7 linked regions of the Homo sapiens genome follow. Changing the gene in region 7 together with the main gene of any one other region gives a genetic interaction. Each region holds a gene or a part of one and is shown on either strand. Other genes may lie near its edges. The genes, in order: ZNF507, GARIN1B, REPS1, PPFIA3, HAVCR2, RAB21 and PTP4A3.

Evidence for each region.
Region 1: changes in PTP4A3 (region 7) and ZNF507 together harm fitness less than expected from each alone (positive genetic interaction), as found in Homo sapiens cells (one study listed by BioGRID).
Region 2: changes in PTP4A3 (region 7) and GARIN1B together harm fitness less than expected from each alone (positive genetic interaction), as found in Homo sapiens cells (one study listed by BioGRID).
Region 3: changes in PTP4A3 (region 7) and REPS1 together harm fitness less than expected from each alone (positive genetic interaction), as found in Homo sapiens cells (one study listed by BioGRID).
Region 4: changes in PTP4A3 (region 7) and PPFIA3 together harm fitness less than expected from each alone (positive genetic interaction), as found in Homo sapiens cells (one study listed by BioGRID).
Region 5: changes in PTP4A3 (region 7) and HAVCR2 together harm fitness less than expected from each alone (positive genetic interaction), as found in Homo sapiens cells (one study listed by BioGRID).
Region 6: changes in PTP4A3 (region 7) and RAB21 together harm fitness less than expected from each alone (positive genetic interaction), as found in Homo sapiens cells (one study listed by BioGRID).

Annotation. Positions count from the first base shown.
Region 1 is NC_000019.10:32,348,610-32,352,109, reverse strand, and holds part of ZNF507 (zinc finger protein 507), read right to left. Parts: intron 2,997-3,500; exon of another isoform or gene 2,757-2,996; intron 1-2,756. UniProt on the Homo sapiens protein: May be involved in transcriptional regulation.
Region 2 is NC_000007.14:128,714,068-128,718,190, reverse strand, and holds the start of GARIN1B (Golgi-associated RAB2 interactor protein 1B), read right to left. Parts: upstream 2,801-4,123; 5' UTR 2,750-2,800; coding exon 2,501-2,749; intron 2,492-2,500; exon of another isoform or gene 1,860-2,491; intron 1,379-1,859; coding exon 1,194-1,378; intron 1-1,193. UniProt on the Homo sapiens protein: RAB2B effector protein required for accurate acrosome formation and normal male fertility. In complex with RAB2A/RAB2B, seems to suppress excessive vesicle trafficking during acrosome formation.
Region 3 is NC_000006.12:138,978,254-138,981,753, forward strand, and holds part of REPS1 (ralBP1-associated Eps domain-containing protein 1), read right to left. Parts: intron 1-3,500. UniProt on the Homo sapiens protein: May coordinate the cellular actions of activated EGF receptors and Ral-GTPases.
Region 4 is NC_000019.10:49,129,544-49,133,043, forward strand, and holds part of PPFIA3 (liprin-alpha-3), read left to right. Parts: intron 1-449; coding exon 450-524; intron 525-834; coding exon 835-1,056; intron 1,057-3,457; coding exon 3,458-3,500. UniProt on the Homo sapiens protein: May regulate the disassembly of focal adhesions. May localize receptor-like tyrosine phosphatases type 2A at specific sites on the plasma membrane, possibly regulating their interaction with the extracellular environment and their association with substrates.
Region 5 is NC_000005.10:157,092,045-157,095,544, forward strand, and holds part of HAVCR2 (hepatitis A virus cellular receptor 2 precursor), read right to left. Parts: intron 3,416-3,500; coding exon 3,262-3,415; intron 1-3,261. UniProt on the Homo sapiens protein: Cell surface receptor implicated in modulating innate and adaptive immune responses. Generally accepted to have an inhibiting function.
Region 6 is NC_000012.12:71,792,863-71,796,362, reverse strand, and holds part of RAB21 (ras-related protein Rab-21), read right to left. Parts: 3' UTR 1-3,500. UniProt on the Homo sapiens protein: The small GTPases Rab are key regulators of intracellular membrane trafficking, from the formation of transport vesicles to their fusion with membranes.
Region 7 is NC_000008.11:141,419,521-141,423,020, reverse strand, and holds part of PTP4A3 (protein tyrosine phosphatase type IVA 3), read right to left. Parts: exon of another isoform or gene 1,634-3,500; 5' UTR 781-1,633; coding exon 676-780; intron 1-675. UniProt on the Homo sapiens protein: Protein tyrosine phosphatase which stimulates progression from G1 into S phase during mitosis. Enhances cell proliferation, cell motility and invasive activity, and promotes cancer metastasis.

The sequences.
Region 1 (3,500 bases), on a different chromosome or scaffold from region 7:
CTATTACTCATATCCACATATATGGTTTTTTTTTTTTTCCCTGAAAGGGTAAGGGACATCAGAGAAGGAAAAAATTGATATCCCAGTTGTGTTTCAGTTCCAGATATGAACAGAGTCCTTAGAAGAGGTTATTTGTTCGTTCTAATAATGCATTATGGCTGAGGAAGTCACTAAACATAAAATACCCATAAATCTTTCTGCCTAAGTCTAGAATACTCTTTCTATTTCCTGGCAGTACTTTCATTTCAAACATTTCCTTTGGCTTAAAGTGAGATTAATTTGTTGACTTGGATCACATTTTTAAGTTTAGGCTTTTTTCCAGCAACAAGTTTTGTTTTTCCACATTTTAGGTGCATTCTGGAATCTTACTCACAACATTCAATAAATGCCAACAAAATTTTTAGTGGCACTAGCTATAGACCAAAGACCACACTATTCTTAAACTTCAGTCCCAGGCTCTGAATTCTTATTTTAGGTGGTGAATCATGGCTGTTCTTCCCCGCATGGTTGAATCAACATATAAGGGCCCTTCAGCCCCTGCCAAGATGATACCTAATGTCCTGCCAGGCCCCGCCCGCCCCCACGCCACACACACACACATATACACAAACACAAAAACAGGCCCCGCCCCCCCACGCCACACACACACACACACACACACACACACACACACACACACACACACACACAGCTGACCAGCTTCAGTGCCAGGTCGCCCACAACTCTGGGCAGCAGCTATGGCTTTTCTTCCTGATTTTCTACTCCTTCTGGCAAGCCAGCTTTCTAGATCTAGGTCCACATCAGGCAAAAATGCAAACACTTTACTCTTGGCTTCTTCAGTACTATTTCTTCCCTTCTTCCTAATAATACTCTGCCCTATGGCATCAGCTTTTTTTCTCTTGGCTACTAGCTGTCTCTAACTGCCCTCACATGCATTCCATGGCCATTCCAACAATGACAGCTACCCTGGCTCCCAAAGGCCCGTGGTCCTTCAGCCACTCTCCCTTAAACAATCTCTCAAAAGACTAGTTCTGTTTCATCTTTCTCAGGTAGAAGGAACAAAAGTCTTTTTAGATCTCTACGCTCAGCTGTAAGTCATTAAAGAGGAGACCAATGGGGGAACAATTTGTTTCCTTAGAAAAACCCTTTTGTGACTTCCTAAGTCACTTTATTGTCTTAGAATTCCACATTTTTAGGCCAAGAGGAGCTGTGGCTCTTCATGTGACTACTGATTTCCCTTTAAGGTGATTAACTTAAGGCCTTATGTCTGTCAGTTCAATGGTTAAATGCAAATTGATTAAATAATAAGTTTAATAATAGGAATCCTCCTGAACACGATACGGCTCTCTGCTGTAGATCTAAGGTCTCCTTCCCCATGAAATGTAACACCCATGTAGGCTGACTGATCATCTGGAGGTTAACAAGTGAATGTTTGCTCAAGAGACTTTGCACACCCGTAGGGTTACAAAGGTGACTCATGTTATCTTTCTTCTACTTAATAAGAGAAGTGACACAGACCAGTGCAAATTGCTCCCTGTGGATATTTCAGTGTGTACCTTAAAAAGAAAGTGAAATGAAGAGAAGGAGGAGTTCATCTTAACTCAAGAAAAAGACTAATACAAAAGAATCTGACAAAACATTCAGATTTTTAAAGCTGTGTCGGCTCAGGCATTAAGAGCTAATGGAAATTTGCAGCAGATGCTCCAATTTTCCCTGAACATTTATGTAAGTATCTCATTTTAAAGGCTGCATACATTTGGGGATAAGTACAGTAATGGCAGCTATAAAACAGATATGACAACATGAAATACGTCAGGAAACACCTGAAAAACCAGTTTGGGTCCCCATGCAAAATCAATGCACAGGTTAATCTCATAAAAACAAGTCTCTGTTAAAAAAAAAAAAAAAAGGTTAGATAAACAGCTGATAATAAAGTATACACAGAGGGGAAGTTACTGTAAGGCCAACTCTTTCAATTTTCACAAAAATGTTACTTAGACCACTAATGCAGAAATACATATATATGAGATTGTGTGTCAAGTGAAGCAAATCTGAACAAAAGAGATGAAATAAGGAGTATACATACAATGTCAGTGGCTCAATAGTGATGACAACATAAACTATGACAATCTGCATACTCTCCTTGGCCTCCAAGAGATCAGTGTAAGCACAGCTTTAAAACAATTACCTTGGTGATACTGCAGTGGTGGGGTGGATAGGATGAGAATAAAGAAAGAATGACTAATTCTGTAATTGAAGTTGCATGATGAGTACCTAGGAATTCACTGTTCTTTCTACTTATGTAAATGTTTAACATTTTTCATAATAAAAAGGCTAAACAGATCATAATAAAGTATACACAGAGGGGAAGTTACCTTAAGGCCAATCCTTCAACTTTCTTGATTCCTTAAAATCACAGAAATTTTATTTAGACCACTAATGCAGAAATACAAATATGTGTGTGTGTGTAACAAACAAATTGTTATGTGCAAGGCGCAAGGCAAAGTATCAGGAAAAATTTTAAATTCTTAATACTTGCAGTTTAAAACTGAGTTGAGTGGATAAGGCAAACATTTGGAAGTTAAAAAGTAACAGCATTTAAACAACGCAATGGTACACAAGGTAAAATAAAAGGCAACAGTCAATGACTAAATCCTGAAAGATACTGAAGAGCTCTTTTGGGCTAGCAAGGTAAGCAAAAGCTTCATGGAGAGGTAAGATGTCCACTGGTTCCCAAAGGATGGGCAGCATGCCAGACATCATCCATTTGCCCTCTAGGCTCACTGTATCCTCCTTTCCATTCTGCTCTCTGTCAGAGGGATTACATCACTAGGCTCCCCTGTCCTCTGCCTTCTGGTTGAGGTCAGCCAATGAAGAACCATGACAGATCAGAGGGAGGTAGCAGAGTGAGATCAGAATATTCATCGTCCTGGTTCTCTACCTCTAGGTCACCTTGGATTGGCTGTGTTCCTCAATAGAAGGCTATTTCTTTCCAGGTAGGCTGCTCTCCAAGACCCTTCTTCTGATTCTGATGCCTCTCCCTCTCCTAATGCTGCTAGCTCCAGATAACTGCATTATGCTGTGGTTTGCTTATTGAAGTCCAACACCTTTATTACTAATATCTTTGTAAATATACCTTCCTTGAATTATCCTCATTTCAACGTGCCATTTGCTTCCTTGGAATACTGCTGATACAAGTTGACACAAGGGTAGCAGTGACCAGAAAAGCAGCCATGACATGACTATATTTTTAGAAGTAAGAATAAGCATGCTATCTGGGGGTGAGTGAAAAGATCGATATGGCTGAATAGGAAAGTTCACCAGGAGGAAAGAAGACGACAGGCATTAGCAAAACAGGAGATTTCTTGTTTGTAATGTTTAGACATAACAACATTAAATATATTAAATTGTTACCAATAAATAAGTAATAAACAAAAGTTGTATCCCAAACCAGAAAAGTTCTATAACCCTTTCCACCAACTCTCTCAAATCTTTCCTTG
Region 2 (4,123 bases), on a different chromosome or scaffold from region 7:
AAAGTGCTGGGATTACAGGCACGAGCCACCGCGCCCAGCCAAAATTTCTTTCTTGAAAGCACCAAAGGAGCTTGCCCCACTGTCTGGCTTGTGCATTTATTGAGTTTAATGCCACAGTTAGTCTTCCCAAGGGAGTTAAAGTTCAAGGATCTGGCTTTGGATCTAATATTAGTCAGCTGGGACTGGGTGGTACTTGCTAGAGGTACACCAAGAACATCATGGAGAGGTGTGTCACTGAGGTAGCATGGAGAAATGAAGGGTTTTCTTGGACTTTTGGGAATTTCTAGAGATTCTTGAGATATCCTACAGATTATTTAAAGAGGCCCCAAAATTTAAAAAGGCTACTTCGTCCCAGACAAGCATGATGTCACTATATGCTACAGCTCTAAGTGAGACTTAGTCCCATTTATTTTACTGATTAAAAAAAAAAAACAAAAAAAACCTGGCCGGGCACAGTGGCTCACGCCCGTAATCCCAGCACTTTGGGAGGCTGAGGAGGGTGGGTCACCTGAGGTCAGGAGTTCAAGACCAGCCTGGCCAACATGGTGAAACCCTGTCTCTATTAAAAATACAAAAATTATCCAGGTGTGGTGGCAGGCACCTATAATCCCAGCTACTCGGGAGGCTGAGGCAGGAGAATCACTTAAACCTGTGAGGCAGAGGTTGCAGTGAGCCAAGATCCCACCATTGTACTCCAGCCTGGGCGATAGTCTTTTTTGAGACTCAGTCTCAAAAAAAAAAAAAAAGAAAGAAAGAAAAAGAAAAAGACAAAGAAAACTGAGGAGCAGCAAATAACTTGTGATTTTAAAAATTGAGTCCAGTTAGTTGTACACCAAGAACTAGAAATAATCTCCTTTCCCCAACCAGTGCTCCATCTGCCAGACTCACTGCCTCCTTGCCCTTGGGCCCAATGCTGAGAGATTTCCTATGAATTCAGTGGCGTCTGTGCAGCGAGAAAGAAAGTGGGCAGGTAGACTAGCCCCTGACTCCTGTCCACATGACATCTCCCTTTGTCCCACTTGGCCTCTGTCCTTCCAGTGCAACACCTGTCTTAGGATACTCTGTTGTCTAAAAAAATCAATGTCACTGCTGATGACATCTCTATCTTCTCCTTGAGTTTAGTAGTCAAGCAACCTCCACTTTGCATCCACCCCTCACCCCTCTTGTCCTCCATTCTCATCTGCATTGCTCACCTCTTCAGGAAGATGTTGGGGGCTATGGATGGTCTGTTCCATGTCTGGTTCTGCCCCTGGTGCCATTTGACACTGGCCATGAGTAGGATGTTGGGGAGGGGCAGGCAGGGTACCGAGGAGGTCACCCCCAGGGCCATGGTGTTGGAAGCTTTGTAGACGTCTCTCCAATTCCTGCCCCTTTTGACCTGCAACACAGCCCCCAGGCACAACCTGAGCATTTGGCAAAAGCTGCAGTCTGTTTCAGCCCAGGGTTTCTCAACCTCGACACTATTAATGTTTTGGGTTGGATATTCTTTGTTGAGGGTAGGATACTGCCCTGCACACTAAAGAATGCTTAGTAGCATCCTTGACCTCTACCTACTAGTTCTAGTAGCACTACCAGCCAAATCGTGACAATAAAAAATGTCTCCAGACATCGTCAAATGTTCCCTGGCAGTTGGGGCCAAAAATCAATTCTTGTTGATAGCCACTATATTGATTAAACAACTACTAGTATTTAAACAATATTTCAACCACCCATTTGTTAACAATTGCCCACAGGAATTACAACCCAGGAGTTCCCTGCCATCTGTCATTTCTGCCAATCCTCCCTGGACTGTTTCCTGGCCTTCTTTGAAAAATGTATCCTCTTGGTCCTTCCCCGAGGTGCCCTATTATCTCCTGCACCTTCACTGAACAGGAAGGTCCTCTCTAACTCCAAAGTGCTGTTCATTCTCGCTTCCATCCAACCAGAGGAGAGCCCAGGCAAGGAGACGAACGTGCACCGAGTGCCTGTTAGACAAGGTACTTTTCTTGCTGTATTTGCATTTCATCCTCAGGTCAGTTCAACCCTTTTACAATCAAGGGGCCAGATTCAGGCTGCACAGGTTACTTGCACAGTCACCTCCCAAGGAGAAGGCAGAGGACTGGAATCTGAGCCCAGCTGTCTCTGGGACCCCAGGTGCTGTTCTTTCGCCAATCCGCATTATTGTTCTCAAGAAGCGTCTCTTTTTACTGCCTCTTTGTTCATCTACTTCAGGTGACAGCCTGGGGGCTGAAGTAAACTGGGGGATTAGATACCAAATTCTCCACTCAGAGCAGAGGACCCCTGACCTTTCTCCCTGGGTGACAGCTGTCTGTAGGAGAAGCCCCGTCTGGGGCTCAGCAAAGCCCAGGTCAGTGAGGGTGGCCTTGCATTCCAGGTCCACTAGCTTCTCCTTGCCTCAATTCTCACTCTGCCCCAGTTTCAGGGATGGACTCTCTCAGTCATATCTTGGGAACAGGTTTCGAAGAATCAAAGAGTGCTATTCTGCGCCACCCAAGAATACCTGGATGAAGTTGCTTTCAAACACCACGGAGTCAAGAAACAGGTTGAATTCTGGAGAATGAACCACCCGGCAGAGCAGTCCCTCCTCCACACCTAGGCCCGCTCCAGGGTTCGGCTCTCCATCCACAGGCAAGAGGCCCCTGAATTCTTCCCAGGCATTCAGGGAAGGGAAGGTTGGATAGGATCTTGTGACTTTTACTGTCTTCTTTGATTTCCTCCAAGTCTTTCTATGTGGAAATGATGACAACATTTCTACACATGCTCAGGGGCCTGCTGCACATTTGTCCTGGGATCTCTGTCTCCCCTCCTGGCCTTGGGCAGCTGGCCAAGCCCTGGGACCACCAGTCAGCTCACAATGATGAATGGATGACATCATGAAAAACCAGGACAGACCTGCAGGAAGGGGAAGTGCAAAGGAGCCTCCCTTTTCCTCCAGAGAGCTTGTGTGCCTTATCCGTGCCTGGACATTCCCCAGCCCTTTTCGGAACCCCAGGACATAGTCCTCCCGGAACTTGCTGAGAAAGCAGTGAGCCAGGCAGAAAGCAAGCAAGGAGGGCTGTCAGGAAGATCCTTCCACTGCTAAGAGGAAAATGCCCTTCCTGCCTTTCAACCCTTCCTTACTCTGAATGCAACCTATCTCACACAACTTTAAAAGCTGCATGTCCATTGAAAACCCCATCTTCCTAAGCTTTGCAGCATGTGGGCCCCCGACACCCTGGTGGATCTGCAGGTTATGGAAGCAGTTGCAGGGCAGTTGGTGCCTGCTCTGCATTCTGCCGCGGCAGGCTGGTTACTTCTGCAGGACTTACTTCCCTTAGGAGGTCAAACTGAAGAAGCAGGAGAAGTAATTAGTTTCTTATCCAGAGGCTGGCTTTGTCAGGGCGCTGGCTGGGAGGAATAGAACCCCGATGAGCAGCTCTGCTAGGTCCCAAGCTGTTCCCCCTCTTGGAGAGTGACAGCATCCCTCACCCCTGAACCAGAGGAGGAAAGAGCCCAAATCATGGGCTGCTAGGTCAGGAAGAAAGAACCAAGCAGGCTGACCACTATTCAAGGCCATTCCTGGGAGAAACTGTTTTCTAATTTGGACCAAATTCTAAATTTTTTTTTTTTTTGAGATGGAGTCTCGCTCTTGTTGCTCAGGCTGGAGTACAATGTGCGCGATCTCGGCTCACCACAACCTCTGCCTCCCGAGTTCAAGCGATTCTCCTGCCTCAGCCTCCCGAGTAGCTGGGATTACAGGCATGTGCCATCACGCCTGGCTAATTTTTTGTATTTTTAGTAGAGACAGGGTTTCTCCATGTTGGTCAGGCTGGTCTCGAACTCCTGACCTCAGATGATCCGCCCACCTCGACCTCCCAAAGTGCTGGGATTACAGGCATGAGCCACTGTGTCTGTCCCAAATTCTGAACTTATTACATAATGAATTAACCATCAAGGTCAAATGTAACACATATAGACAGAGTTTGACAATCATTACACACAAAGGACAAGCATGGAGGCTGACTTTTGTATTTCATTATAAAGTCAGGGAGAAGCCTAAAGGGCCTGGAGGCTCTCACCATCCAATTCCATCAGTCCTTCCCTCTGGTCATTCAGATCACACCCCTGCTCCAGCACCTGTTAT
Region 3 (3,500 bases), on a different chromosome or scaffold from region 7:
ATATTTAATAAAGCCCAATTATTTGTTTCTTTTCCTTTTCTTTTTTTTTTTTTGAGACAGGGTCTGGCTCTGTTGCCCAGGCTGGAGTCCATTGGCGCAATCTCGGGTCTCTCTGACCTCTGCCTCCCTGACCTCTGCCTCCCAGGCTTAAACCATCCTCCTGCCTCAGCCTCCCAAGTAGCTGGGACCACAGGTGCACACCACTATACCCAGCTAATTTATTTTATCTTTTTTTTTTACAGGCAGGGGTCTCCCTATGTTGCCCAGACTGGTCTCAAACTCCCGGGCTCAAGTGATCTGCCCGCCTCAACCTCACAAAGTGCTAGGATTACAGGCATAAGTCACTGTGCCCAGCCCTGTTTTGTAGTTTTAAATACAAAAATCTTGGTGACTCTTTTCTTAAGTTTATTCCCAAGTATGTTAGGCCTCTTTGAAGCTAATGTGAATGTATTTTTTTCTTACTTTCATATTAAGATTTTATGTTACTACTACACTGTTAATCCTGCCTCAGTTTGTAGAAAACAAATAAAAGCCATTAGGCCAGAACATCCTCCCACTAAATCTATATTCCACCCACTAAATCTATATTCCTACTTGCGTCTGTAACCATGTTGTTCTTTCTTCCCCACTGTTAAAACTGAGGAAGTGGCCGGGCACGGTGGCTCATGCCTGTAATCCCAGCACTTTGGGAGGCCAAGGCAGGCAGATCACGAGATCAGCAGTTCGAGACCAGCCTGGCCAACATGGTGAAACCCTGTCTCTACTAAGAAGACAAAAATCAGCCAGGCGTGGTGGTAGGCACCTGTAATCCCAGCAACTCTGATGGCTGAGGCAGGAGAATCGCTTCAACCCGGGAGGCGGAGGTTGCAGTGAGCCAAGACCAGGCCATTGCACTCCAGCCTGGGCGACAGAGCGAGAATCCATCACAAAAAAAAAAAAAAAAACAAAAAAAAAAAACTGAAGAAGTATCCCCTTCCTATCAAAGGACTCTGTGCAGTCAGGATCCTGACCACTCCTGCTTTCTCAAGGACTTCTCATCTCCCTTATCTTAGCAATCCTAACAACTAAAATCATTCTGCAGAATTTCTCACACTCAAAAAGAAACAAACAAAAAGATTTCCTTTATATCCTCATACATCTCTAGCTTCTACCCTGTATCTATTCCCTTTCATAGGTAAACTTCTTTAAAAGCTATCTATACACCCTGTCTCTAGTTCCTCAGCCATCATTTATCCCTCAAATCACTCAAATCTGGCATCCATCTACACTAGTCCATGAAACTGGCTCACTGAAGTTACTAATAACTTCCAGGTTGCCAAATCCAATGGCCACATTCCTGCCCACATGTTCTCAGCCTCTCAGTGAAATTCAATACAGCTGACTACCCACCCCCTTGAAATACTTGCATTATTTGGCATCCACGACATGATAATACTATATATTACACATTCCCAATTTGTACCACTCTGATTGTGTGCTTCCTAGCGTCCTTCCAAGAAGCCTTCCAGTTTACCCAACTTAGAAATGTTCAGCATTCCTCAGGATTCCAGTTCTAGTCAATCTTTCTCTCTTCTTTATAATCTTTTCTTCAATTATTTCATTACCTTAAGTATCACTAACATAGTGACAATCTTCAAACTGACATCTCTAAGCCAAGTATCTCTGAATTCCTCAAGATGTATAGATCTCTCTAACAGGCCTACTTGACAATCTTACAGGCTTCTGAGAACTAAGATAGACAAAAGGGGAACTGCTGAATTCACCCTTACCTCTCCCACGAAACAATCCCCCCCAAAATCCACTCCTCTTCCAACCATCCAATAGTGGCAACTTCCAGCAACATCCTTGAGTTCTTTCCCCTCCCTTATGTTCCATATCCAACCCTATTTATGCCTTCGTATTTCTACCACCTAAAAAATTCTCACAGATGTCCACTGCTCTCTATCCTACTGCCACCTCGCTAATCTAAGCCATTGCTGTCTGCTGCCTGGACTGTTGCATATCCACTAGCGTATCTGCTTCCACTTGCCCCCAGTATTCTTTTTGCTCATACAGCAGTCAGCATGATCTTTTAAAATATAATTCAGATGATGCTACACCCCCGAATAAAAACTTTTAGTATATTTCCACTAAAATCCAAATTCCTTATCACTGAGTACAAGGGCCTGCCTTATGCAGTCCCTGCCATTCTCCCCTCTTGTCCACAGTTTCAGTTCCTTAAACACACTGTGCTCTTCACAGCCTCAGGCCCTTCCCAGTTCTCTCTATATGAAACACCTTATTCTCCCTCCCCTGACCCCCCATCCAGGCATCCTCTAAGGGGCCTTCCCTTACACCTAAGTAGGTCCCCACTACCTCCTCTGATTCTACCACCCAATGATTCTCTATTATTGTACACAGTTCTTTTTTCCTTTTTTTTTTGTGGGTGGGGCGGGGGGGGGGGGGAACGGAGACTTGCTCTGTCACCCAGGCTGGAGTGCAATGACACTACTATGTTTACTATGTCTCATTGCAGCCTCAACTTCCCAGGCTCAAGTGATCCTCCTGCCTCTGCCTCTCAAGTAGCTGGGACTACAGGTGCAGGCCACCACGCCTGGCCAGTTCTTTTTCTTTTCGACATTGGCACAAGTCAGAGAAGATGTCTTGATCCTTCACCACTGCATGTATACCCCCAATACAAAGAACAGCCACAAAGAAGTCTTTGTTGAAAGTATTTAAAACTGATTTAAGACAGAAGTGTTTAGCATTTCACAGGTCAGCCTGCTCTTCCTTAAAACTGAATTAATGTAGAAGTCCATAAGATGAGCTTGACTCAATTAGGGGAAGGCTGGAAATCACAAATTAAGTGCAAAATTCTGTGGAACTATGTTTTCTAAGCAGATGTCCAGTGCGTGCAGCAGAATCTCAACGGAATCAACAGCCCAAAAGAGACAGACTAATAAATTCTGTCTTCATTATTTAATGAGACAGACCCCAAATTCAACACCTGGCTAATTCTTGAAACAAAATGCAGAAGAGATGTAGTATTCTTAATTTTAAAAAGCCTAAGTCTTAGAATTTATCAAATCTCAATGAAATCTGGTATACAGTTTAACTTCCATTAGACAAATTTCTTACACAGAGGGAAAAGATGAGTGAAGATGCATCTATAATAGGAAAGGCTACAGAAAATAAAACCTATATAAGGGAAAACATCAGAAATGACAAGTCTTATCACCCATTTCAAATTCTCACGACCTTGAAGAACTAAGCACCCATGGATTTATGACCCTTTCATCAGTTTCCTCTTGTATATATCTCCTCTTTGTATTCCTCAAAGAATGTCAAATAATCCTGTTCCAGTGTCAAGATAGTGGAGCAACTAACCACAAGACTTTGTGCTACTTTTAAAGGGGTGTGGCTGGAATAGATTAGCCGCTCCTACACAAAGATACTCTCATTTGAGTCAGAAATCATGAAAACCCAATCCCATAGCTATATCAGACATTCTGTGATTTGTT
Region 4 (3,500 bases), on a different chromosome or scaffold from region 7:
AGAGAATCTATTGGGGCAGGACTAGGGCAGACAAGCTATGGGGTTGGACTATGGAGAGAAACCAGTGGGGTTCCTAAGTGGGCACGCATTGCGCAGGGCTACGGGGAGAATCTCCCAGTGAGAGTGAGATTAAGGGTAGAACCAGGGGCTGGGGCTCAGGCTGGGACTAAGGAGGAAGTGATTGAATGGGGAAAAGCGGGGCTAAAGCGGAAACTTTGTCCAGGAGGCTAAGGGGAAGAGTAAGGGTAGACGCCCTCCGTGGTGGCAGCTAAGGAGGGATATAAGGAGGGAGGGAGCCTAAGGGTAAACCGTGGGGTAGGCATGGCCCCAGCACGACCGGAGGCATCTCATATGGGGCCGCCTATCCCCTTAGAGGGCCAATGCCAGTGAGAACTAGAGCTGGGGGTTCAGGGAGCCCCTGTGCTCTGATTCCCCTTTCACACTTCCAGACTCTGAACCTTCGAGAACAGCTGTCTAGGCGGCGGTCAGGGCTGGAAGAGCCGGGCAAGGATGGGGATGGGCAGGTGAGACATGGAAGTCCCCTCTCCGTGAGCTCCATTCAACTCCCTGACTTTGTGATAGTGTTTGTAACGTTTGGTATCATCCTCACTGGCCCTAAGACGGCTGCACCTGTAAGAGTGTCACAGAGCTTGGACCTCTGATTCAGGTCACCTAGCGAACTTCTGTGACCTCCTTCACTGACCCCCGTGGACTCTGACCAGCATGATCCTTATTGATCTTTGATCTACTTTCAGCTGATTGACTTTCTCCTTGGATTTCCTCTGTGTCTCCGGAGACACTCTGGGATCTTGTCCCCTCCTTCCCTCACTCCAGACTCTTGCCAATGGCCTGGGTCCTGGCGGGGATTCCAACCGGCGCACAGCAGAGCTGGAGGAGGCCCTGGAGCGGCAGCGCGCCGAGGTGTGCCAGCTGCGGGAGCGCCTGGCGGTGCTGTGCCGTCAGATGAGCCAGCTGGAGGAGGAGTTGGGCACCGCGCACCGTGAGCTGGGCAAGGCAGAGGAAGCCAACTCCAAGCTGCAGCGCGACCTCAAGGAGGTGAGGCCCCCAGGGAGGCGGGCTGCCCTGGGTCCCTCGCCTTTCCGTAGAGCTCTCCCTCGCGCATTGCTCATGAATGGCGGAACCTCGATTCAGTCCACAGGCTGGGTGACTCCTCTTTGAGATTCAGTTTTCCCACCTGTGAAAGGAAATGTATGATTCTCATCAGAGGGTGAGCCTGTGGCGCAGAGTAGGCGCTCCATAACTGCTCGTAATTACTTTGTTACCTAACTTTGGGTTCTTCTCTGGTGCCTCTAAATGGATTTTTTTTTTCTTTTGTGAGGCAGAGTCTGGCTGTGTCGCCCAGGCTGGAGTGCAGTGGCGTGATCTTGGCTTACTGCCACCTCTGCCTCCCGGGTTCAAGAGATTCTCCTGCCTCAGCCTCCCAAGTAGCTAGAACTACAGGCACCTGCCACCATGCACCGCTAATTTTTTTTTTTTTTTTTGTATTTTTAGTAGAGATGGGGTTTCACTATGTTGGCCAGGCTAGTCTTGAACTCTTGATCCGCCCACCTCGGCCTCCCAAAGTGTTGGGATTACAGTAGTGAGCCACCGCACCCAGCCTCTTTTTTTTTTTTTTTTTTTTTGAGATGGAGTCTAGCTGTGTCGCCCAGGCTGGAGTGCAGTGTCGGGATCTTGGCTCACTGCAACCTCTGCCTCCCAGGTTCAAGCGATTCTCCTGCCTCAGCCTCCCTAGTAGCTGGGACTACAGGTGTGCACCACCACACCTGGCTAATTTTTTTTTTTTTTTTTTTTTGTATCTTCAGTAGAAATGGGGTTTCACTATATTGGCCAGGCTGGTCTCGAACTCCTGACCTCAAGTGATCAGCTCGCCTCGGCCCAAAGTGCTGGGATTACAGGTGTGAGCCACTGCGTCCAGCCTCTAAATGGAATGTTTTGTGGGTATTTCACCCCTTTCTGGCTTAGGCCGCTTTATCCTAATCCCAGTGACCCCAGGGAGCTGCTGGGAAATGTGGACCTGGATTCTTGAAGGCAGTGGATGAGAAAGAAGAGTGAGCACTAGGACTAGCCTGGGCAACATAGCGAGACCCCGTCACTACTTAAAAAAAAAATTAGCCGGGCGTGGTGGTGGGTGCCTTTAGTCCCAGCCACTAGAGAGGCTGAGGCATGCCAGGTGCGGTGGTTCACGCCTGTAATCCCAGCACTTTGGGAGGCCGAGGCGGGCGGATCACGAGGTCAGGAGATCAAGACCATCCTGGCTAACTCAGTGAAACCCCGTCTCCACTAAAAATACAAAAAATTAGCCGGGCGTGATGTCGGGCGCCCGTAGTCCCAGCTACTCGGGAGGCTGAGGCAGGAGAATGGCGTGAACCCGGGAGGCAGAGCTTGCAGTGAGCCGAGATAGTGCCACTGCACTCCAGCCCGGGCAACAGAGCGAGACTCCGTCTCAAAAAAAAAAAAAAAAAAAAAGTTGAGGCATAAGAATCACTTGAGCTTGGGAGGTGGAAGTTGCAGTAAGCCGAGATCCGTACCACTGCACTCCAGCCAGAGTGCTGGTTGCTCATGCCTGTAATCCCAGCACTTTGGGAGACCAAGGCAGGCACATCACCTGAGGTCAGGAGTTCAAGACTAGCCTGGCCAACATCGTGAAACCCCCGTCTCTACTGAAAATACAAAAATTAGCCAGGCATGGCAGCGGGTGCCTGTAATCCCAGCTACTTGAGAGGTTGAGGCAGGAGAATCGTTTGAACCCAGGAGGTGGAGGTTGCAGTGAGCCGAGATCGCACCACTGCACTCTAGCCTGGGTGACGGAGCAAGACTCTCTCTCTCAAAAAAAAAAAAAAAAAAAAAAAAAAAAAAGAAAGAGAGAGAGAGAACCTTCATCTGGGATTTTAAGCCTGGATAGCCGCAGGGGCTATTGGGAAATGTAGCCCCACCACGTGGGCTACCAGATGAGGGTCCATCTCCCATAAGAAGTTGAAGCACTTCTTTTGGGGTTCTAGGCCTCTGGTACCCTGGTAGCTCTTGAGAGGTGTTGCCTTCTAGGTAGAAGGGATCCTTATTTCCCATGAGACCCCAGGACACTTGCTGTTTGATTCTAAGTCTGCTCTATGCCAGAAATTAGTGAGAAATCCAAGGCCTGGGTTTTGAGGAGAGGGCTGGAGTGGAGACTTCACATCCCACAGGCCTCAGATCCTCTGAACCTGGAGGATCTGAGCCTGCAGTGTCCTAGAAGCTCATGGGAGGTGTAGCATCACCATTTTAACTCGCAGGTAGGTGGCAGGGACTTAAGATGGGCTAGTCCTGGGAGCTCTTAGCGGGTGTGACACCACCATTCTGACTCCCATGTCAGGGCACTTTGTTTCCCAGGGAACAAGGGGGTTCCCCGTCCTCTCCCCCAGGGGCTCGCAGTCCACGGGGCCCTTTGCTACCTCCGCAGGCGCTGGCGCAGCGGGAAGATATGGAGGAGCGGATTACAACAC
Region 5 (3,500 bases), on a different chromosome or scaffold from region 7:
TATGTGTGTGTACAAAGCATCAGATTTCCTCTAGATCCCATCACTCTTTATACAAACTAGAATAAGTGCTAATATGTATAAATTATGGTCATATTATATATATATATATATATATATATACACACACACATATATATATAAAGTGGTCTCTAATATATATAATAGTAAAGCTCAAAGTTTTACTTTGAGCCATGGCAGAAGTCAAAAAAGTAGTGAGTGTTATCAGTGCTCCTTAACAATCCCTAGTCTGTTTTGGAAATACTCAAGTGAGGCTAAGTGCAATGACTCATGCCTATAATCCCAACATTTTGGGAGGCTGAGGTGGGAGGATTATTTAAGCCCAGGAGTTTGAGACCAGCTTGAGCAACATAGCAAGATCTCATTTCTATTTTTATTTTATTTTATTTTATTTATTTTTTGAGATGGAGTTTCACTCTTGTTGCCCAGGCTGGAGTGCAATGGCACGATCTCAGCTCACTGCAACCTCCGCCTCCTGGGCTCAAGTGATTCTCCCACCTCAGCTTCCCGAGTAGCTGGAATTATAGGCATGTGCCCCCATGCCCGGCTAATTTTGTATTTTTAGTAGAGATGAGGTTTCTCCACGTTGGTCAGGCTGGTCTCAAACTCCCAGCCTCAGGTTATCCACTCACCTCGGCCTCCCAAAGTGCTAGGATTACAGGCGTAAGCCACCGTGCTCAGCCTCTATTTTTAAATATGTATATATTCATCACGCCTGTAATCCCAGCACTTTGGGAGGCTGAAGTAGGAGGATCACCTGAGCTCAGGAGATTGAGACCAATTTTCTGGGCAACATGGCAAAACCCTGTCTCTACCAAAAAAAAAAAAAAAAAAAAAAAAAAAAAAAAAAAAAAAACTAGCCAGGTGTGGTGGCATATGCCTGTAATCTCAGCTACTTGGGAGGCTGAGGCACAAGAATTGCTTGAACCCAGGAGGCAGAGGTTGAAGTGAGCCAAGATCACACCACTGTAGTCCAGCTCCCAGGTGACAGAGTAAGACTCTGTCCCAATAATAATAAATATATATATATATGTGTATACATATATATACATATATATATATTCATGTGATCAATTCAAAAATTCCATGGCTATCTCTGAATAAACCCAGGTAAGTGTGGGTGGGGTAGTTTCTTTTTCTGAATAATCCATTTAACCATAATCGCAGAAACCATAAAGATGAGGAGCAGGACAGTCCTGGTTTCAAATCCAGTATCTATCAATTAACTGTGTAAATGCAGGCAAGTGACCTAACCTTTTAGCATGCTGATTCTCCATTAGAAACATATTAGTACCTATCTCATAGGGTAGTTACGAGAATTTAATGCACGTAAAGCACTTGGCAGCTTCAGTCCACAGTTAGTGGGGGGACCAACTCATGTTTTTCTTGGACTGTTCCAGTTTTAGCCCTAGAAGTCCCATATATCTTAGGAACACCCTTTAGTCTTGAGCTAATCTGAGGTGATTGCTCACTCTACACACACAGTCCCTGTTTGTGTATTAGTAAGAAAGGCTGCTATGTCATATTACGCTCTGGGGCATAAGGACTTGGTTTCTGCCCTAAAAGAAAATAAAATAGACACAATTATAAAAGTGTGTGAGTGGCCAGGCACAGTGGCTCACGCCTGTAATCCCAAAACATTGGGAGGTCGAGGTGGACGGATCACAAGGTCAGGAGATCAAGAACATCTTGCCCAACATGGTGAAACCCTGTCTCTACTAAAAATATAAAAATTAGCCAGGCGTGGTGGTACATGCCTGTAGTCCCAGCTACTCTGGAAGCTGAGTCAGGAGAAACACTTGAACCCGGGAGGCAGAGGTTACAGTGAGCTGAGATCGTGCCACTGCACTCCAGCGTCCATCTCCAAAAAAACAAAAGTGTGCGAGGTTTTGGGGGTACTGGAAGTATTTAGATCTTGATTGTGATGATGGCTTCCTACTGTAATTCTCCATCAAAATTCATCAACTTCAACACACTTCTTTTTTTTTTTTTTTTTGGAGACTGTCTTATTCTGTTGCCCAGGGTGGAGTGCAATGATGCAATCACCGCTCACTGCAGCCTCCTGAGCTCAAGTGATCCTCCCACCTCAGCCTCCTGAGTAGATGGGACTACAGGTGTGTGCCACCATGCCCAGCTCATTATTATTATTATTACGTTGTAGAGGCAGGATCCTGCTTTGCTGCCCAGGCTGATCTTGGTCTCAAACTCCTGGGCTCAACTGATCCTCTCACCTCAGCTTCCGAAAGTGTTGAAAATACAGGCATGAGCCACTGCACCTGGCCATTGTATTTATTTATTTATTTATTTGCTTATTTATTTATATTTTATTACTTTTTTTTTTAAGACAGTCTCACTCTGTCACCCAGGCTGGAGTGCAGTGGCATGATCTGAGCTCACTGTAACCTCCACCTACCAGGTTTGAGTGATTCCTCTGCCTCAGCCTCCTGAGTAGCTGGGATTACAGGCATGCGCCACCACACCCGGCTAATTTTGTATTTTTAGTAGAGATGGGGTCTCACCATGTTGGCCAAGCTGGTCTCGAACTCCTGACCTCAAATGATCCACCCCCCTCAGCCTCCCAAAGTGCTGGGATTACAGGCGTGAGCCACTGCGCCGGGCCTGTTTTTTTGTTTTTGTTTGTTTGCTAGTTTAAAAAAAAAAAAGGGATAAGTAACTTAGAAAAAGCTATGTGCTAAGTACCATGATGGAGGAAAACATTCTCTAACCCCAGTCACGACCCAGTGTTAAAGGGACTTGCAGTCTACTGCCAGAGAGGTATGCCTGAGAAACCAATAACAGAAAAGTGCACAGAAGGAAGTGTTTTTTGTTGTTGTGTTTCGTAACAAACCTAGACATATTCATGAATTAAAGAAATTAGTTTACTGGAATCAGCCTGCCTGGATTTGATTTCCGGTTCTGCCAGGTACTGATGTTGAAACCTCGGGAAGGCAGCTTACTCTAAGCTTGACTTCCCTTCACTGTAAAATGGGGATGGTACTATTCCTTATCTCATAAGACAGTAATGATGATAAAATGTATGTAAAACATTTAACGCAGTGGCTGCCTGACACACAATAAATATTAAATAAAAATTAGCCATTATTGTTAGGATTTGGATGGACAAAAGGGTATTTAGTCTAATCATCTTTGGGTATAAACATGAATTTGCATTTCTATCTAGGTTTTTACTGGTTCTCACTGAAGAATTTGTTATCAGAGGGAGAGAGAAACAAAAACACTTACATTTGAAAATTAAAGCGCCGAAGATAAGAGCCAGAGCCAGCCCAGCACAGATCCCTGCTCCGATGTAGATGCCTATTCTGATGGTTGCTCCAGAGTCCCGTAAGTCATTGGCCAATCTAGAGTCCCGTAACTCATTGGCCAATGTGGATATTTGCTATGGAAACACAAACAGGATTTAAGCAGAAAACAGCTAGAAATCGCTTGTGTAATCAGCTTCAAGATTTGTGAATTGGACCATC
Region 6 (3,500 bases), on a different chromosome or scaffold from region 7:
GAAATAATATGAAAATTAAGGAAAGTACAGACAAAAAGTAGCTCTTAAAACTGCCCAGCAAAATGGATAAAATTTGTAGAGTTCCCTCACAGGGCCATGAGACACTATCCCAAGAGTAACTCTAAAGCTATTCTCAAATCTCATGATGAGGTTCTCTACTTCAATAACCAATTCCTCCTTGGACCTTATATTTCTTGGATTTTACATTGTCTGTGTGTATACCACAGAGGCTATTCTATGCTTTGCCTCTTTTCCTGTCCATTTCCTGTTTAATTCTCAGAGTGCCCCATCAGGCATTTGCAGAGAGGCTCCTTGTAGCATTTCTTGGCGAGTATGTACATTAGAATGTCATAAAATTTCATTTGAGTTTATATGGTAGTTTTAATGGTTTGCTTTGAATCTCCCATTAGATGTATTAAATTAAGTAACTGGCACATGCAATTTCTAGTTGCAAATAAATAAAAAGCAAAAACAGCAAAATTATCTTGAAAAACTGAAGAAGTAAAAAACTTCACATATACTTTAAAAAATTCCATCACAGACTAAGGATTTTTGGACACAAAATTCTACTCAGTTTTCAACAATGTAGCAAAAAATGGGGGTGAACACCTCCAGTTCTCTAGTTCCAGTGTTTCCAAGAGATGACAGGTATCATCCTAATGAGCTTCAAAAAACCAGAGCAGAGATGTAAGTGAATTCAAGGACAGCATTACTAAAAATTATGGCATATAAAAAATTTAGAATTCTTCATGCAAATACCAGGTAGCTGGAAGCTTCTGTGTAATTTATAATTTACTGATCACAAATAAAGGCTTTTTTTTTCTTCTTTTGCCCAACTCTGAAAGAGGTATTAGTTAACCTTAAATTAGTTAAATTTGTGACTAGAGGTCATAGAAACAGTCATAGTCTTCCCTAATGATGTTTAAGCTGACTTTAAATGTCAGTAGAAGGCATTATTACGCTAGGGACATTCCCAAATTTCTCCATTTTATTAAATATAAGGTTTTGTTCTGTTTTGTTTTGTTTTCAAGCAGTGCTTGGCTTAGAACAGCTGCTGCTGCTTCTTTTTTAAGCACCACTACAAATACCATGATGCTTTGACAATATTTTTAAGGGGCTATTCATGGATTCTTAACTTTTAATATTCTGAATCACAAATCTTGCTCATTTTTATTTCTCTAATGAAATCCATCCATATTCCTAGAATTCATTATCAATAGAAAAGGACAAATAAAAGTCACTTGCCAGACTAGTGGTCTTAATCATCATTGAACTCTTTAGCTCTTAGTTCCATATTTAAGAAAATTCCCCCCAATTTTCAATAATCTTATCCCTGTCAAACATTCCACAGATGAGAATTGCTTACACATGGTGATTACTATGAAAATAATTCGACATCTAGTTAACAACTTTTAACTTTTTTTTTGAGACAGAGTCTCACTCTGTCACCGAGGCTGGAGTCCAGTGGCACCAGGTCTGCTCACTGCAACCTCCGTCTCCTGGGTTCAAGCAATTCTCCTGCCTCAGCCTCCCAAGTAGCTGGGATTACAGGGGCTCACTACCATGCCCGGTTAATTTTATATATATATAATATATATATGAAATATATATAAATTTATAAATATAGCTGGGCTCGGTGGCTCACGCTTGTAATCCCAGCACTTTGGGAGGCCGAGGCGGGCGGATAACAAGGTCAGGAGATAGAGACCATCCTGGCTAACACGGTGAAACCCCATCTCTACCAAAAAAATACAAAAAATTAGCCAGGCGTGGTGGCGGGCGCCTGTAGTCCCAGCTACTCGGGAGGCTGAGGCAGGAGAATGGTGTGAACTCGGGAGCCGGAGCTTGCAGTGAGCCGAGATAGCGCCACTGCACTCTGGCCTGGGACAGAGCGAGACTCCGTCTCAAAAAAAAAAAAAAAAAAAAAAAAAAAAATATATATATATATATATATATAATATATATATGGTTTTGTTTTGTTTTGTTTTTAGTAGAGACAGGGTTTCACCATGTTGGCCAGGCTGGTCTCGAACTCCTGACCTCAGGTGGTCCACCTGCCTTAGCCTCCAAAAGTGCTGGGATTACAGGCGTGAGCCACCATGCCACAACTTTTAACTTTTTTTTTTCTTTTTTCTTTTTTTGAGACAGGGCCTCACTCTGTCGTCCAGGCTGGAGTGCAGTGGTGCGACCTCAGCTCATTGCATCCTCTAACTCCCAGGCTCAAGCAATCCTCCCATCTCAGCCTCCTGAGTAGCTGAGACTACAGGCACACACCACCACACCTGGCTAATTTTTGTATATTTTTGGATAGAGATGGGGTTTCGCCATGTTGTCTACACTGGTCTTGAATTCCTGGGTTTAAGGGATCCATCCACCCACCTCAGCCTCCCAAAGTGCTGGATTACAGGCATGAGCCATGGCTCCCAGCCAGCTTTTAACACTTTTGATTGGAAAGGGCCAGCTTTAGTCTTAGCAGAGCAGCAAATGTCAGCCTCAAGGCAACATACCAAAGTAGTAAATTATTAGCCTAGAACCTAGAACCCAGAACCCAAAATCTACCATCTCCTTCCTTTAACAATGCCCTTTCTGACCATCTTCAAGAAAGTTCACCCAAAATTATGTCTTTCGCATAAATAAATTTCTTATGCCACTACTTTTGGCTAAAATCTTTTGATGGGGATGAATTACTCCTCTCACATCCTCTAGCTTTTCCTTTACAGGACTTTTATGTTTTGAAGAACTCATTAAATCACTAAATTTACTAACCTTTTGTGAACTAGTAAGAATGAAAGTAACTTGTGTATAACCAACTAATGGGATAGTTTGTGTGTGTGTGTTTAAACGGATGATTTCGCTCTATTTTCTAACCAGAAGGGCCAGGAGGACTAGATGATTTAACTTTATTATATTGTAATATCAAAAATATCCTTAAAAGACACTGAAAAGATGTTTAGAAAATTCATATTCATTAAACCATCTTTCTGACCTGTATCTTCAATTTCAGATAGAAAAAAAGGGACCCACACTCTTAAACTGGAGAGTGCATTTAGAATTACACAAACTATCCTACTATGACTCAGGAATGGATTGTGTTCTGGCTTACTGTGTGGTGACAAGGCCACATCTGTCAAAGGCAAAGAAAACAACATGATTGCTTTTTAAATTGTATTTTTTCTAGGTTAAAAAAAATCACCGCAAAACCAAACCAAACCAAACAAAAATGGCTGCTGTCTAAATAAGCAGGAGGCATCAGTTTATTCACTGCTACCACAAAATTTGGAAAAGCAATTTGGGTTAGAGGATCACTTAATTACCCCCTTGAAGCTAGAAAGTAAGTTATTCAATTTTAATCTGGCTTGAAAATGTATTATTTGCAAAATTCAAAAACATTCTTTCCAGCTTTACCTCAAATTCACTGTCAGCTTCAACTACTGTCATTCTAATTATCTCACTCCAAAAGTTTGGCAGGTACATATCTGATCAAACACAGAATGTGAACA
Region 7 (3,500 bases):
ACGCTGCAAACGGCCCCAGGCCTGCAAACAGCAGGGCGTTCTGCAGAGGCCAGGCTCCTCCAGGAGGCCATGCAGGTCGCTCCAGACTCCACTCCCAAGAAAGCTTCTGTAAACGCATCTCGTCCCATCTGCCAGGGTTGCCAGCGGCAGGTATCTCTGCTGCCTCTCCAGGGCACAGTGGTCCCTCCCTCCTGTGGTCAGCGCTGACCCTTGCTCAGTCCCTCCTCACACAGAGATCTGGGCCCTGAAGCCCCTAGTCCAGCCTGGTCTAACCTGAGGCCTCATCCAGAGCCCAGCAACATCTGGGACAGCAAAGGGCTCGGGAGGGCCCCAGCCCAGGCCACGGCTGAGCACGCACAGCCTGGTCCATGTATCCCCCTGCCTCACCCCCTGCCTCTATCCACACAGCGTGGAGTCCCTCCTATCACACGCCAGCCCCCTGCAGGCCTCCCAGGGGACCCCGTTGATCCCCCAACACCCTCAACCCCAACCCCCGGGGCACCCCCATCTCCCTCCTCCAGGATCCTGTAACAGGCGACTGGGCTTTGTTCCAAGGCTGTGAGCCCTGTCTGGCCAGCCGGGGCTGGGGACCCCTCTTGCGAGGCCTGAGGGCAGCTCAGCCGGGCTTCCCAGACACCTGGGCCACCTGCCTGCCACACCTCCGTCTCCACTCACCTCAATGAAGGTGCTGAGCGTGGCGTTGGTGGGGTTGTGGGTGATGAGGAAGCGCATGTGTTTGTAGCTCACCTCCACCGGGGCCGGGCGGTTCATCCGAGCCATGGCGCCTCCCGACGGGCCCGGCAGGGCAGAAGGGACTGCAGAGAAGGCTGGGGACACGACCTGAGAAGTCCCCACACACCCCCAAAAAATGAGGAGAACGAGATCCCTGTGCTTGTCCAAGAGAAACGAGATTTAAAAACCCACCCCCATACCCCGCACAAATATTGTGCAAATACTTGGGTGTGGGGGAGGAAGCTGCCCACTGTTTGGATAATTAAAAAAGAAAACCCAACTCTTAAAAAAGAAAAGGAACAAAACAGCCCGCCGCCCCCCCCAACCCAACCAAAGTAAAGCGGGCAACTCCAAACTCCCGTCTCTCAGAGCTGGATAGTCATAAAGAGGCAAAAAATAAAAAGAACAACCAAAAAAGCTCAGCAAAGAAAACTTAAAAACTCAAAGTGAACCCGGCCGCCAAGCAGTGTCCAGAGCTGGACCCCACACCGGGGGCGCCCTCTCCACATTGGTGGATGGGCAGACAGCCCCCTTCACTCAGAGGTGGGCCCCAAGCCCCCAAGGGCCAGAGGAAGAATGAACTTGAACTGAACCAACTCCAGCTGCCTTGGGCCAGGGGTCACGGGCAGTGGCCGTGGGGACAGCGGCCTCTGACGTGTGGGGCCTGTGTCACGTTACCCCATCGGGGTACGGTGAGTCCTGGAGTGGGGCAGGGGGCTCAGGCGGTAGAGCTGGCCCCAGGCTGGGCAGCAGAGGCCATCGGCAGGCGAGGGCAATGGTGAGAGCCAGTGGCACGGGGACCCCTCAGCAGGAGGCGCGGCGACCCTGGGCGCAGCAGTGCTTAGGGCTGGGCCCCGTGGCCCACTCCATGAACCCCAGGTGGGTCCACAGCACACAGCATCTGTGGGGAAAGACGAAGGAAATGAATAGAAAGGGATCACAGGGGGCCCCGCCTCCCACAAGGGGTTCATGCCTGTCATGAGCCCACAGTCACAGGCGACACCTCTCCCAGAGCCCTCCTCCTGACCATGCTGAGAGAATGACCCTTTTGGGTCTATTTCCTTATATGGGAGCACAAGGAAGCACGGCTCCTGCCAGGACTGACCCAGGGCCCAGAGGCGACAGGGTAGCCACCACACAGCCAGCAGGGCATGACGGAGGACAGAGGGGACAGGGATTTCAGGGACACACACACCCCCGAGGACATGATGAACCCCAGCACACAGATGACAGATCCCTCTGTGGGGACAGAGGCCGAGTTCCTAAGAAGCCTGAGCCTGGCCCCTGCCCACCTGCTGTGATCTGCGGAAACTCCACCCCAGGACAGCTGCCCTCTCCTCTTCCGATTCTCAGCCACTGTGAACATCTGAGCCCAGGTGTCTCTGGGTGGCCCATCCTCAGGGAATGGGGCCCAGGCACTCGGTCAGTGCTGCCAGCACAGGGAGGTGAGGGGCCTGGCCCCACACGCGGCCGTGGGCCACCCTAATCGCCTCTTGCTTTCTGCAGAAAGTCTCCTGCCTGTCAGCAGCCCCCTGTCCACCAGTGTCCCCCCGCCACTGTGTCTCCACTGCTCACACAGGTCTCAGCCAGGCTCGGGGATAAACAGGCCAGCTCTGCCCCTCCAGGAGCTCAGGGAGGCGGGGACAGAACACGCCAATGGGCCAGCCATCAGGCACACATGCCAAGGTGGTGACAGCACAGGTGGCCAGGAGTGGGTTCACACCATGACAGGGCCCTGAAGAGGGGAGGCGGCAGGGGGGGCCACAGCAACCCAAGGCACCTCCACGCCTGCCTCTCTCCCTTTCTGGGTCTCATGACCCCAAAGCTCCCAGGCAAAGGGGTTCCAGGAGCACGCAGCCCCCTTCCCTCTCTACGGAAGGGCTGGGAGGCCTTGAGCAAGGTGCCGGCCTCTTTGTTACCCCATGAGCACGATGAGGGGTGACACAAGTGACCCAAGCTGTATTTGGGCACTGCTGCTGAGGGGTCCCCGCACTGCTGGCCCTGGCTGTGACCCAGCTGTTAGCAGACTCTCCAGCCCCCTAGACTCAACCCAAGCCCGGCCCTGTCACTACTGCCTGCTACCCAAGGAAAGGCACTTCAGGGCCCCTCGCCCAGCAGAGCCCTCCATTCCCCAACCCACCCCCTCTCACCTGTGCCCCTGCCCCAGCCCCAGCACCCCCTTCCCAGCTGCCCACCAGGCAGGCTGGGCCCTTGGAGCTTCAGCCCAGGTGCAGGTAGGGCTTGAGGCCTGGGCCCCTGGACTCAGAGGGTGGCTACCTGGGACAGTGGGCTCCTCCCTGCCTGCCCTCCACACCCTGGGTGGCAGCCAGTGCTCATGGGCTCAGAGCAGCCGCCACACCTCAGGCTCTGTCCACTGCATGGTTCTGGGAAGGTTAAAATGGGCGGTGGGTGTCAGGCGCAGTGGCTCACTCCTGTAATCCCAGCATTTTGGGAGGCCAAGGCGGGCGGATCACCTGAGGTCAGGAGTTCAAGACCAGCCTGACCAACATGGAGAAACCCCATCTCTACTAAAAATAAAAAAATAAAAAATGAGCCAGGCATGGAAGTGCATGCCTGTAATCCCAGCTACTCGGGAGGCTGAGGCAGGAGAATCGCTTGAACCCTGGAGGCAGAGGTTGCAGTGAGCCGAGATCGCTCCATTGCCCTCTAGCCTGGGCAACAAGAGCAAAACTCCGTCTCAAAAAAAAAAAAAAAAACCGGTGGTGGGGTGGGACCCCCAGAAGGAGGTAAAGGTGGAGACAAGGATA